3 linked regions of the Homo sapiens genome follow. The protein of the gene in region 1 interacts with the protein of each later gene in a pairwise test. Each region holds a gene or a part of one and is shown on either strand. Other genes may lie near its edges.

Region 1 (4,417 bases):
TGGGAGGTCGAGGCAGGAGAATTGCTTGAACCCAGGAGGCAGAGGTTGCAGTGAGCTGAGATCGCGCCACTGTACTTCAGCCTGGGTGTCAGAGCAATACTCCGTTTTGGAAAACAAACAAACAAACAAACAAACAAAAAACAGATGGAGCAACTGAGAGAGGTCTTGTGACTTGCCCAAAGTCACACACCTCATCACTAATCACACCTAATCATTGAGATTTGGACACACATGGTTCAGTTCCAGAGTCCATGCTCCAAACCATGACGACACAGTGAGAGAACATTCAAGGGGAGCCCAGACCCAGCTTCATAACCAGGCCTGTGAGCAGGAGAAAGTGGAAGGGATCGTAAGTGCCCAGGGGAGGCAAAGATGGACTCTGCCTGAGGATCTCAGAGATTTCCTGGAGGAGGGAGAATTGAGGTTGGGTGTTGAAGGATGAGTGGGAGTTCACCAGGAAAAGAAGGATATGGAGAAAGACATTCACTCATTCAATGAACATCTCCTGAGGACTTCTGCAAGCCCTGTTCCGCCTGGAACGGGGTGATGCTGGGACACAGAGATGAGTCAGACCTGGGCCCAGCCCTCCAGAAGCTGTCCACCTGGTGAGAAGGAATGATGAGGAGAGAGGCAGGGAGGATGGGGTGATGGAAGGGACAATGGGGTGGGGGGCAGGGAGATGGATGAAAAAAATATATAGCAAATGTTCTCAGGATTTGGCAAAGATCAGGATGTATTAAGAGAGAGCACAGGGCACTTGCTACCTGGAAGGTTGGGCACCTGGGTCCTTGGGTGGTGGAGCCGTGGGGAAGGGGGCAGGTTATGACAAGAGTGGGTTAATCCAGATGGAACCAGATTTCTCAACATTCTAGGAGAGGGCCTTGTCCTTGTGGGAAGAGGCCCAAATCCCCAGGGCAGGGAAGGTTCTGCAAGGTGTGTAAACCTGTGCAGCTGCCTGTGGTCTCTGCCTCACTCCACCTGGATTTCCCTCAATCTTTCCCGTGTTCTGTCTCCTCCTCCCACTCCTCCTCTCATCTTGGGTCCTTCTGTGCCTGTACCTCCCTCTCTTTGTATCTTTTGCTCTTGTGTCTGAGTCCTGACTCTGTCTTCCACCCCTCGCCTCCTTTCTGGGTGGTCCCCCTGCACATCCCTCCAGCCTGCCGTGGGAGGTTGGTCTCTGCACACCACTGCTTTATCCAAAATAAACCTGCTGCACCCCAGGACCTTAGGCTTCAAGGATCTCCCTCCTTTTCCAGGACACAAAAGATTCTGTATCTTGTAGCCTAAGGTGATGAGGAATGAGGTCTCCCACTCTGAAGACCCCAGAGGAGGTGCCCACAACCTCTCCACACCCCCAGCACTCCTCCTCCATTCAGTCAAGCTCTGGCCCAGCAAGCCGCCAGTTCATCCCAAAAGGGGGGTCCCCCTGCACTTACCTCCTCTCCCAAGGCCCCTGTCACAGCCCCAGGGCTTCCCCCTCCCCCAGGTACATTTCCCAACCCCGATTAATCACAGGGGCGGCCCCATGGAGGAGGAAGGAGATGGCATGGCTTACCATAAAGAAGCACTGGACGCCGGGTGCACGTTCCAGGATCCAGGTGCCCAGGGGTCATGAAGCTGGGACTCCTCTGTGCTCTGCTCTCTCTGCTGGCAGGTGAGGCTCCCAGGCTGGCTGCCCCTTCACGGCTGTACTAAGGTCACCTTGCTCTTCCCTCCCATCCCAGGCTTCTGCCTCCTGCCCTCTAGGCTTCTCAGCATCCTCTCCCTGCCCTCCCAGCCTGCTCTTCGCTGACCCCTTTGTCCCTCATCCCCACCCCAGGGCATGGCTGGGCAGACACCCGTGCCATCGGGGCCGAGGAATGTCGCCCCAACTCCCAGCCTTGGCAGGCCGGCCTCTTCCACCTTACTCGGCTCTTCTGTGGGGCGACCCTCATCAGTGACCGCTGGCTGCTCACAGCTGCCCACTGCCGCAAGCCGTGAGTGACCCAGGCTGGCCATGCTGGGGAGGGACAGAGGCTGGGGGTCAGGAGAGGGTGAGGGGTGCTTTAGGCCAGAAGTGCGGAGCCTCCACTTCTGATACCACAAGTTCAACTCTTAGAAGTAGGAAGGGTAGCCTCCCAAATCCTAAAATTCTAGAGACCAGCAATATCTCATTTGAGAAGTCTAAGATTCGAAACTTAGGCTCTTCGAATCCGAGACTGACCCAGAGAAATCCAGAATCGTAGAATCCTAAAATCTTGAATTTATGAAATTCTGCAATAGCCTCAGCAAATTTTAGAATCATAGATTCGCAGACTATTAGAATCTTAGCAGTCTGGGTCAGCACTGCCCAGAGGAATTATGATGCCAGCCACATGTGTAAGTTTAAATTTCTGGTGGACACATTTAAAAAATAAGGAATGAGTAAAATTAATTCTAATAGATTTAACTTGACATACCCAAAAACTTATTTTGACATGTAATCAATTTTTAAATACGTATGAACGATACAGTTTACTTTTGTTTTGGTACTAAGCCTTTGAAATCTGTTCTGTATTTTACACACATAGCCTGTTACAAAATGGACTAGCCACATTTCAAGTGTTCAATAGCCATAATGGCTAGTGTGATCCTAGAATCTTAAATTCAGAGCTTTCTAGATTCATTGAATATTGAAACTCACAGTACTAGAATCTTTGATTCACAGTATCCTAGAATATTGAGATTCAGATAATTCTGTAGTCTTAAACTATTTGAATCCCAGACTCTTAAATTTCTAAGGTTATAGATTTATAGAATGATGACATTCTAGTCTTTCTTTTTTTTTTTTTTTTTTTTTTTTGAGACAGAGTCTCCCTCTATCTCCCAGGCTGGAGTGCAGTGGCACAATCTCAGCTCACTGCAACCTCTGCCTCTCGGGTTCAAGCAATTCTCCTGCCTCAGCCTCCTGAGTAGCTGGGATTACAGGTATGCACCACCATGCCAGGCTATTTTTTTTTTTTTTTTTTTTTTAGTAGAGACGGGGGTTTCACCATATTGGCCAGGCTGGTCTTGAACTCCTGACCTTGTGATCTGCCCGCCTCGGCCTCCCAAAGTGCTGGGATTACAGGCGTGAGCCACCGCGCCCAGCCAAAATTCTAGTCTTTTTGTCCTAGAACATTAAAATTCTATGTTCAAATCTTAGATTTAATTCAGATAATGTTAGAATCCTGGAGTTTTTTTGATCCAGGGGAATCTGGAATGTTAGAATCTTGGATTCATAAAACTCTAAACCTTGAGCCTCTAGATTCTAGAATCATGGATAATAGTGTGTCGGAATCTGAGAATTCTAGAATCTTAGGTTCTGGGCATTCTAATAGTATCCTGGAATCCACCTGATGCAGGAATCCTCTCTCCATTGCCTCTGAAAAGTGACCATCCATACTGTTCCAATTTTCTTCCCTCCATGAGTAAAGCACTGATTGTGGTAAGAGATGCTGTGTGGGAATTTCCCATCATGCATTGCTCCATGATGGAACCTCCTTTAACTTAAGCCTATACATCAGACTGGGAGAACGATGTTCAGATTTCAGCCGAAAGTGAAGCAGGAGAAATGCAGAGATATGAAGGTGGAAGAGAGTGAGAGGCAGGGGAAGGGTAGGGGGATGAAGGGATGTAGGGGTGAGGACTACTTTTCCAGATCCAGAGCCAAGACAGCAAGAATGACAGAGAGAGACAGACACAGATGTTTCTGGTTCCCCAACCCTGAATTCGCAGTCATTAGCCTGCTGCCTAATGTCAGAGGTCAGAGGCTGGGGAATGGACTTGTCATCCCCGAAAGGATCCCAGCTGTCTAGGGCATGGACCAGAAATGAAACAAGTGCGCTGAGACTGTGGTGAGGGCTTAAGGTTAGACACCAGGAAGACATGCATTGAAGGGTGAAGGATATGATAGACAGGAAAAGCTGAGGCCAGAGATGACCCCCAATTTGGGGATTTTCCATATCCCATCCCCTTTCATACACACGCACACGTATACACACACACCACTTAGACATACAGAGCCGCTCCCACAGAAGCCACCAGACCTGTGGGGGCAGGGGTGGGGCGGTTGTTATGTGGTAGGTGGGGTCCCCCGTGCCCACACCGTTCCTAGGGACCCAAGTCACCACCAAGGCTCCAGGTGAGTAGGGAGGAAGGTGGCTCACTCAGCCTGGGACTAGGAGCGGGGGCTTTGTGGGGAGAGCTACAAAGATGGAGACACACAAAACATCAGAGTGGGGACCAGGGACCCAGAGGAGGTGTGTGCCTCGCTTAAAATCACAGTACCCTGGGCCAGACATAGATGATGAGGGTGCAGAGAGGGTGTGTGGCTTGCAGAGGGTCACACAGCACCCTGATGGACAGGAAAAGAGGGCTGGGGCTGAAAGGACTTTTACCTTTCCCCCAGCTTGACCTC
Region 2 (3,722 bases), on another chromosome or scaffold:
GGACAGGGTGTTTCTGGAGCCCAGTGAGAGCTGGGGCAGTGGTGGACACAGCTGTGTCAGGACAGGAGGCCCAGAGCAGGAGGTGATGGAGGAAGGCACTGACTCCTTTCTCCTGTGGCCCTTCAGGGGCCTGCCCATTGGCTCATAGTGGAACCCGGTCACAGCCCATGTGGCAAGACCCCCCATGATGCCTTGCACAAGGTCAGCCTCCTGGGCCCAGAGCAGGTGAGGGAAGGGCAGTGGATATGTCGGGAGGGTGGAGTGGGCAGGTGGTGAATAACTGGCACTCGGGTTATCTTTTCTTGAGGTTAGGATTGCTCTCCAGTTTTATAGGTGAGGAAGCTGAGCTCAAGTGGTTTTCCTGTGGCCCACCTGGGTGTCATAGCAGAGTGAGCCCTGGAACCCAGGCCTGCCTCGTCCTGACTTCTGTGATCTCGGGCGATCACATAGATCGCAGTGTTCGCTCTTGCATCATGTGTGTTTGACAACTTTTCTGGGTGCCCCTGGCCCTAGGGTAAGACATGCATAGAGTCCAAGTCATCATTTAGGTCAAATCTCTAAAGTCAACTTACAAAAAGGAACAAAGAATAACCCTGCAGGTGCCATTGGCCAGGTTGTTTCTTCACCGCCCAATGATGCCTGACTTTGGCTGGGACCGTCATGCTTTCCTAGCCACGGTTGATGGTGCAGAGGAGGAAGGAACACTCCCCCAGGAGAGTTTGCTGGGCTTGACAGCATGCCCTGATGACCTCTCCCTCCCTCTGCCTTGGCCGTTCTGGTTATTTTGAACTCCTCTTGTGTTCTCACAGATGCTATTCAGGTTTTTGACGTCACCGCTGTGAACATCAGTGCCACAAGCCTGACCCTGATCTGGAAAGTCAGCGATAACGAGTCGTCATCTAACTATACCTACAAGATACATGTGGCGGGGGAGACAGATTCTTCCAATCTCAACGTCAGTGAGCCTCGCGCTGTCATCCCCGGACTCCGCTCCAGCACCTTCTACAACATCACAGTGTGTCCTGTCCTAGGTGACATCGAGGGCACGCCGGGCTTCCTCCAAGTGCACACCCGTGAGTTCATGCCTGGCTCTCACCACCCTTTCCTGCTGTCCTGCTCCGTGCCAGGCCCAGACACAGGATGCATGATGTAGTAATGGTGACTGTTGGCTGACCACACGCCAAGCTTCGTGTGACATGCTTTCCTTGCACTGGCACATTGTATGCTCACAACAGCCCTGTGATGTGGTTGGAAGTAGCCTTATTTTATAGATAGGAAGCCAAGGCTGAGAGAGGTGCTAGACAGGTATCACAGCTGGAAAGTGGCAGAGGTGAGATTAAGCCTCTGGTATTTCTCACCTGGAGCCTGCGCTTGTAACTCTCTTTCCAGTGTGGAGGAGACCTAGAGTGAATTGATACAGGGAGACAAAAATGACCTGGTATTCATATCCCCTTGTGTCTTGGGTGCTGACATTATAACGAATCACTGGCACAGCTGTATCTCATCTTTGTTTGTTTAAATGTCCCTTAAAAATAAGATTTTATGCAGCAAATAAAAAGCTTTAGGTTTCAAAGAAGGTCCGATAATGTAAAATAAAACAGTAATGGTGCACTAGTAGTACAGTGGTATAATATTGATTATATACTATTAAACAATAGTAGTGACACCAGCACTGCATTTTGCACTGTGCCATGAGATTTATAGACACTGTAGTGGCCTCCGAGGTAGGTATTGGGGTCCCCTTTTACAGATGAGGAAATGACACCCTGATGGCTGAACAGTTTGCCCAAAGCCACAGAGCTAGTGAGTAGCAGAGCAGGACTTGAACTCAGGGGTGTGTGGCTCTGGACCCAGGCTTATCCCACAAGAATGTCCATTCCTTCGCAGGAAGCACACCTTAGCATTCTTATAGATGTATTTTGGACTGGATCTTTGGGAAAATGAAATATGCTTGCATTTCTTTACCTTTTACTCTTTTACTATTTATTAGTTAGGATTAGGTTCAGCCACGAATAACACCACCAAAAACAACAACAACAAAACCCAAGTATCCGTGGCTTAAACAAGACAGGGGTTTATTTCTCTCTCCTGTAACAGAAGCCCAGTGCTAGGCAGGATGGGGATGATAGAGGTTATCCAAGGCTCAGTTGTATGAAACAGAAACTGTGAGCTATTTTAACCAAAAGGGATTTATCCTGGGAATTGAGGTTTTGCAGAATCATTGGAAGAGCTGGTGTATTAGTTTGCTAGGGCTACCAGAACAAGTACCAAAGGCTGTGTGGCTTGAACAGAAATAGACTTTCTCATAGTTCTGGAGGCTGAAGGTCAAAGATTAAGGCAACGGCAGGTGTGGTTTCTTCTGAGGCCTCCCTCTTGGCTTATAGATGACTGTCTTCTCCCTCACATGGTTGTCCTTAGTCTGCGTGTGCCTATGCCCTCATCTCCCTTTATAAGGACACCAGTCTTGCTGGATTAGGGCCTACCTTCATGACCTCACATTAACTTAATTACCTCTTTGAAGACCCTGTCTCCAAAGACAGCCACATTCTGAGGTCTTGGGGGTTAGGACATAAACATACACATTTGGGGGTGAGGGAGCACAAGTCAGCTCATAACAGTTGAGGAGCAGGCTTTAGGCCTCGCCCCAAGAAATGACTCCTGGACTAAGTCTGCAGAACTGACCCCCTGGAGAGTCACCACCTTGGTCACAGACAGCAGAGGGAGGAATCAGGAAGTCTCTGCTGTAGTTGCGGGATCCAGGGGTCTATGTTCTGAGCTGTGATCCTGGGATCAGGAAGCTGCAGCCACCGCTGAGGTTTTGGTTCTAGAGCCAGGCAGCGTGAGCTCCAGTCATTGCATCCACACTACAGGTATAAGAAGGAGGAAGGGCAGAAGGTTGTGCCCCACCCTTAAAGGACACTTCCTAGAAGTCACCCAGTACCTCTGCTCATGCTTCGTTGAGCAAAACTTAGTCACATTGCAACATCTAGCTCCATGGGAGCTGGGAAATGTGGTCTTTGTTTCCAACAGGTATGCACACACAGGGCTAAAAATCTGGGTGGGTATGATGAAGGGAAAATGGGGGAATGGATTTTGGGGGTCAAGACTGGTCTCTCTCTGCTGTCCCTCCCTGAACAGAGGCTCTGGGAGGCTAGTAATGCATTCGAGATAAAGCAGCCAGTGTGGCCAAGGTTCTCCTCCAGAGCCTGAGCCCTTGACCACAGGAGCTCACGCCTCCTCTCATTTCCTGTGAATGATTGTGTGCAATGTAAGCACAGAGCTTCTGCACTCTCATGATCAAGTGCTCTCTCCATGGCCAGAAACAGCAGTTTCTGAGGGGCTCATGTTGTAGGTGATGATACAAAGAAGACAGAGAGAGGGATCAGGTGTCCTAAGTGTACATTTCATCTCAGTATTTTCTGAGGTGGGGCATCCCTGTCTCCTGGAGAAGTATATTTTTAATCTAGTTGTTTACTTTCTTTGCATAGCCCCTGTTCCAGTTTCTGACTTCCGAGTGACAGTGGTCAGCACGACGGAGATCGGCTTAGCATGGAGCAGCCATGATGCAGAATCATTTCAGATGCATATCACACAGGAGGGAGCTGGCAATTCTCGGGTAGAAATAACCACCAACCAAAGTATTATCATTGGTGGCTTGTTCCCTGGAACCAAGTATTGCTTTGAAATAGTTCCAAAAGGACCAAATGGGACTGAAGGGGCAT
Region 3 (3,500 bases), on another chromosome or scaffold:
AGCGTAAAAAGGATGAGAATCTGACCCTTTCACTGTTACCAATTATTTTAGAGATCAGGTGATACTGCTCTTATCCAGATTCGAATGAGCATTTATTGAGCTCTGTTGTGTACAAGTGACCTTTGTGCTTAGAGAGAGAGGAGGGGTCTAAATGGACGAGTGGGCTGGGTATGGTGGCTCACACCTGTAATCCCAGCACTTTGGGAGGCCGAGGTGGGCAGATCACCTGAGGTCAGGAGTTTGAGACCAACCTGGCCAACATGGCAAAAAATACAAAAATTTAGCTGGGCATGGTGGTGGGTGTCTGTAATCCCAGCTACTTGGGAGGCTGAGACACGAGAATCACTTGAACCTGGGAGGCAGAAGTTGCAGTGAGCTGAGATCGCACCACTGCACTCCAGCCTGTGCAAAAGGGCCAGACATCATCTCAGAATAGGTGAATGAATGAATGAGTAATCACATGCGCTGCCTTTCCCTGTTTCTCAAGTCTGGCATCACTTTAGAATCTCTTGTTAGGATTTATGACACCCAGGCTTTACCTCAGAAGCTGAGAGTGGCACTCAGGTATAAGCATGTGTTTCCAAGCTCCCCAGGTATTCCATAGCGCAGCCAAGTTTGAGACACTGGGGTCTAAGAACCATGTAGAACTAATTAGAATCCTGAAGTGTCTGTGATAAAGATAATAAGCTTTTTGTAAGATTACAGAGGACATAGGTTAAGTTGGAAAGCCTGAGTGTTGAGATTCCTAGGCTCAGGAATTTTAATTTAAGCAAAATTAAATGTCCTAACTTGCAAAGACATGAATCTGTAAATTCCAGATTAATGGCAGGTGTGAATTGTACAATAGAAACTGATCTAGCCTACGTGTCTTCTTGGACTGGCAGACTATGTTAATCTTTTTATTTTATGGCAAGTTCAACATTATTCCCTTTTGTACTGAATTTTAGATTACTGATTTTGGGCACTCCAAGATTTTGGGAGAGACCTCTCTCATGAGAACCTTATGTGGAACCCCCACCTACTTGGCGCCTGAAGTTCTTGTTTCTGTTGGGACTGCTGGGTATAACCGTGCTGTGGACTGCTGGAGTTTAGGAGTTATTCTTTTTATCTGGTAAGAAATATTTTCATTGCTGCACAGACTGGTAGGAGGTGATTAGATGAAGTCACAAATGTGTCTTGCTCTGTTGTCCAGGCTGGCATGCAGTGGCTTGATCTTGGCTAACTGTAGCCTCTGCCTCCTGGGTCAAGTGATCCTCCCACCTCAGCCTCCCGAGTAGCTGGGACTACAGATGCACACCACCATGCCCAGCTAATTTTTCTATTTTTTGTAGTGATGGGGTTTTGCCATGTTGCCCAGGCTGGTCTCGAACTCCTGGGCTCAAGTGATCCTCCTGCCTCGGCCTCCCAAAGTGCTGGGATTACAAGCCTAAGGCATTGTGCCCAGCCTAGCTCACTTTTTGACCATTGATTTAAAGAAAAATCTGACTTTTCATTATGCTGAAAAAGAAATCTTTATATCTGAATGCCACTGAGAATGCCACTTGATTTCTTTTCCTTTCTCTCTCTACCAATATTAAGCCTTAGTGGGTATCCACCTTTCTCTGAGCATAGGACTCAAGTGTCACTGAAGGATCAGATCACCAGTGGAAAATACAACTTCATTCCTGAAGTCTGGGCAGAAGTCTCAGAGAAAGGTATGAATATGAAAGGGTTAAGAATTTGTGGTATGCTAAAATGTGTATGTGCTGTGGTGGGAGTTTCTTCCCAAATTCCATGGTGTTTTCTCCTGTCAATTCTGTTCTTATTTTCTATTGTTAGTTTCACACCATTTGAGAGGCACTGGAAATTATTAAGAGCATGCACTCAGGTCCTGGGTCTGCTACTACTTAGCTGTGTGGCCTTAGGCAAGTTATTTAACCTCCATCTCCAATTTCTTTCTGTGTAAAGGGACCCTCAATAAACCCTACCTTAAAAGGTTTTTGTGAGGGTTAAGTATCATGTACACAAGTGCCTGGTACCTATTTTAGTGAGCAAAATAAATGCACTTGTAACTTTTTAGTTACAAGGTTTCCTTTGAGTAAGCAAGCATGTAAAAACTAGATGTCATTAGTTACCTTGTATTTTATAATTTATCCTGGCAACTTTAGTTCCCTGAAGAGAAAGTAGAAAATTAAATGTCAAATAACATAACATAGGTGATTGTGTTAAATGTCAGAATATTTAAGGAATAATAATGTTGTAATATACAGGCCAGCGTGCATTTGTTGCTTGCTGGAGTAGCCAAGTTTTATTTCTGACAAGTCTGCAGTTCCAGGGAGCCTCTCCCTCGCTGAGTAACTGTCACCTATCCATCTGTAGATGTCAGAGAGAGTTTGCTGTGCATCCCAAGTATCTTAGAATTGGGTAGAAGTTTAGCTTTAATTAGTCCGACCTTGAGTCTAGCAACAAGAGAGGGAACAGGCAGTGAAGAGGTCGTGACTGACGTCCCAGCAGCAGGAGACAGGGAGTGTCATTATCATTCCTGGTCTTCTCACAGTACTCTGAATACAGAGAGTGAGGAAGATTAGGGGGCCCTGTCTGCTGACTCCGTGATGATCTCAGACCCTCTCTGCTCTTTCTGAATGGTGGCCTGTTAATTCTGGCATACTCTTACTGATAATATATTTATCCTTTTCACTGTGATTTGCCCAATTGTTGCTTTAGCTCTGGACCTTGTCAAGAAGTTGTTGGTAGTGGATCCAAAGGCACGTTTTACGACAGAAGAAGCCTTAAGACACCCGTGGCTTCAGGTGGGTGTGGGACAGTGCCTGCTAGCATAAAATACATGGGAAGCCCTGCTGCCTGAGAGACATGAGACAGAGGACAGAAACATGTTTACTTTGTTGAGTGTTTAATCTAATTGTTTTAGATGTATGGGGGGTATCTTGGAGGATGGGTTACAACCTGTTTTATTTTTTTTTTTGAGACAGGTTCTTGTTCTGTCACCCTGGCTGGAGTGCAGTGGCACGATCTCAGCTCACTGCAACCTCTGGCCCCCGGGTTCAAGTGATTCTCCTGCCTCAGCCTCCCAAGTAGCTGGGATTACAGGTGCATGCTGCCATGCCCAGCTACTTTTTGTATTTTTTGTAGAGATGGGGTTTCGCCGTGCTGGCCAGGCTACAACCTTTTTGATATTACTCATGGCTGTTGGATGTACACGCTCACTTTATGTCCTGTTCTGGTTCCACTTGGCTGCCCCGAGTCTCCTGTTTGGCCTGTGTTCTTTTGAGTGCTTGTTCTGGCTCTACCCCCAGCCATGTCCACTGCTCTTCATAGGTGGGGTGCATTCCAGCCATCTTCAACCTTAAATCAGGGAAGTGGGGGAGGGGGAGGAGGACAGCCTCCCTGGGGAGAATCCAGCTATTTCTCAAGCCCAAGTGACTGGGTATAAAGGGTCCCACTGCTTGTTCATTCAGGTGAGTAAATGTGTCCTTAATGAAGGCTGTCACCTGCACTTTTCA

The links.
Region 2: the proteins of KLK9 (region 1) and PTPRJ interact in a two-hybrid assay, tested with the Homo sapiens proteins (one large-scale study listed by BioGRID and IntAct).
Region 3: the proteins of KLK9 (region 1) and CHEK2 interact in a two-hybrid assay, tested with the Homo sapiens proteins (one large-scale study listed by BioGRID and IntAct).

The regions. Positions count from the first base shown.
Region 1 is NC_000019.10:51,006,742-51,011,158, reverse strand, and holds the start of KLK9 (kallikrein-9 precursor), read left to right. Parts: upstream 1-1,566; 5' UTR 1,567-1,611; coding exon 1,612-1,654; intron 1,655-1,819; coding exon 1,820-1,976; intron 1,977-4,417.
Region 2 is NC_000011.10:48,126,971-48,130,692, forward strand, and holds part of PTPRJ (receptor-type tyrosine-protein phosphatase eta isoform 1 precursor), read left to right. Parts: intron 1-809; coding exon 810-1,073; intron 1,074-3,488; coding exon 3,489-3,722. UniProt on the Homo sapiens protein: Tyrosine phosphatase which dephosphorylates or contributes to the dephosphorylation of CTNND1, FLT3, PDGFRB, MET, KDR, LYN, SRC, MAPK1, MAPK3, EGFR, TJP1, OCLN, PIK3R1 and PIK3R2. Plays a role in cell adhesion, migration, proliferation and differentiation.
Region 3 is NC_000022.11:28,693,321-28,696,820, reverse strand, and holds part of CHEK2 (serine/threonine-protein kinase Chk2), read left to right. Parts: intron 1-947; coding exon 948-1,111; intron 1,112-1,578; coding exon 1,579-1,694; intron 1,695-2,703; coding exon 2,704-2,789; intron 2,790-3,500. UniProt on the Homo sapiens protein: Serine/threonine-protein kinase which is required for checkpoint-mediated cell cycle arrest, activation of DNA repair and apoptosis in response to the presence of DNA double-strand breaks.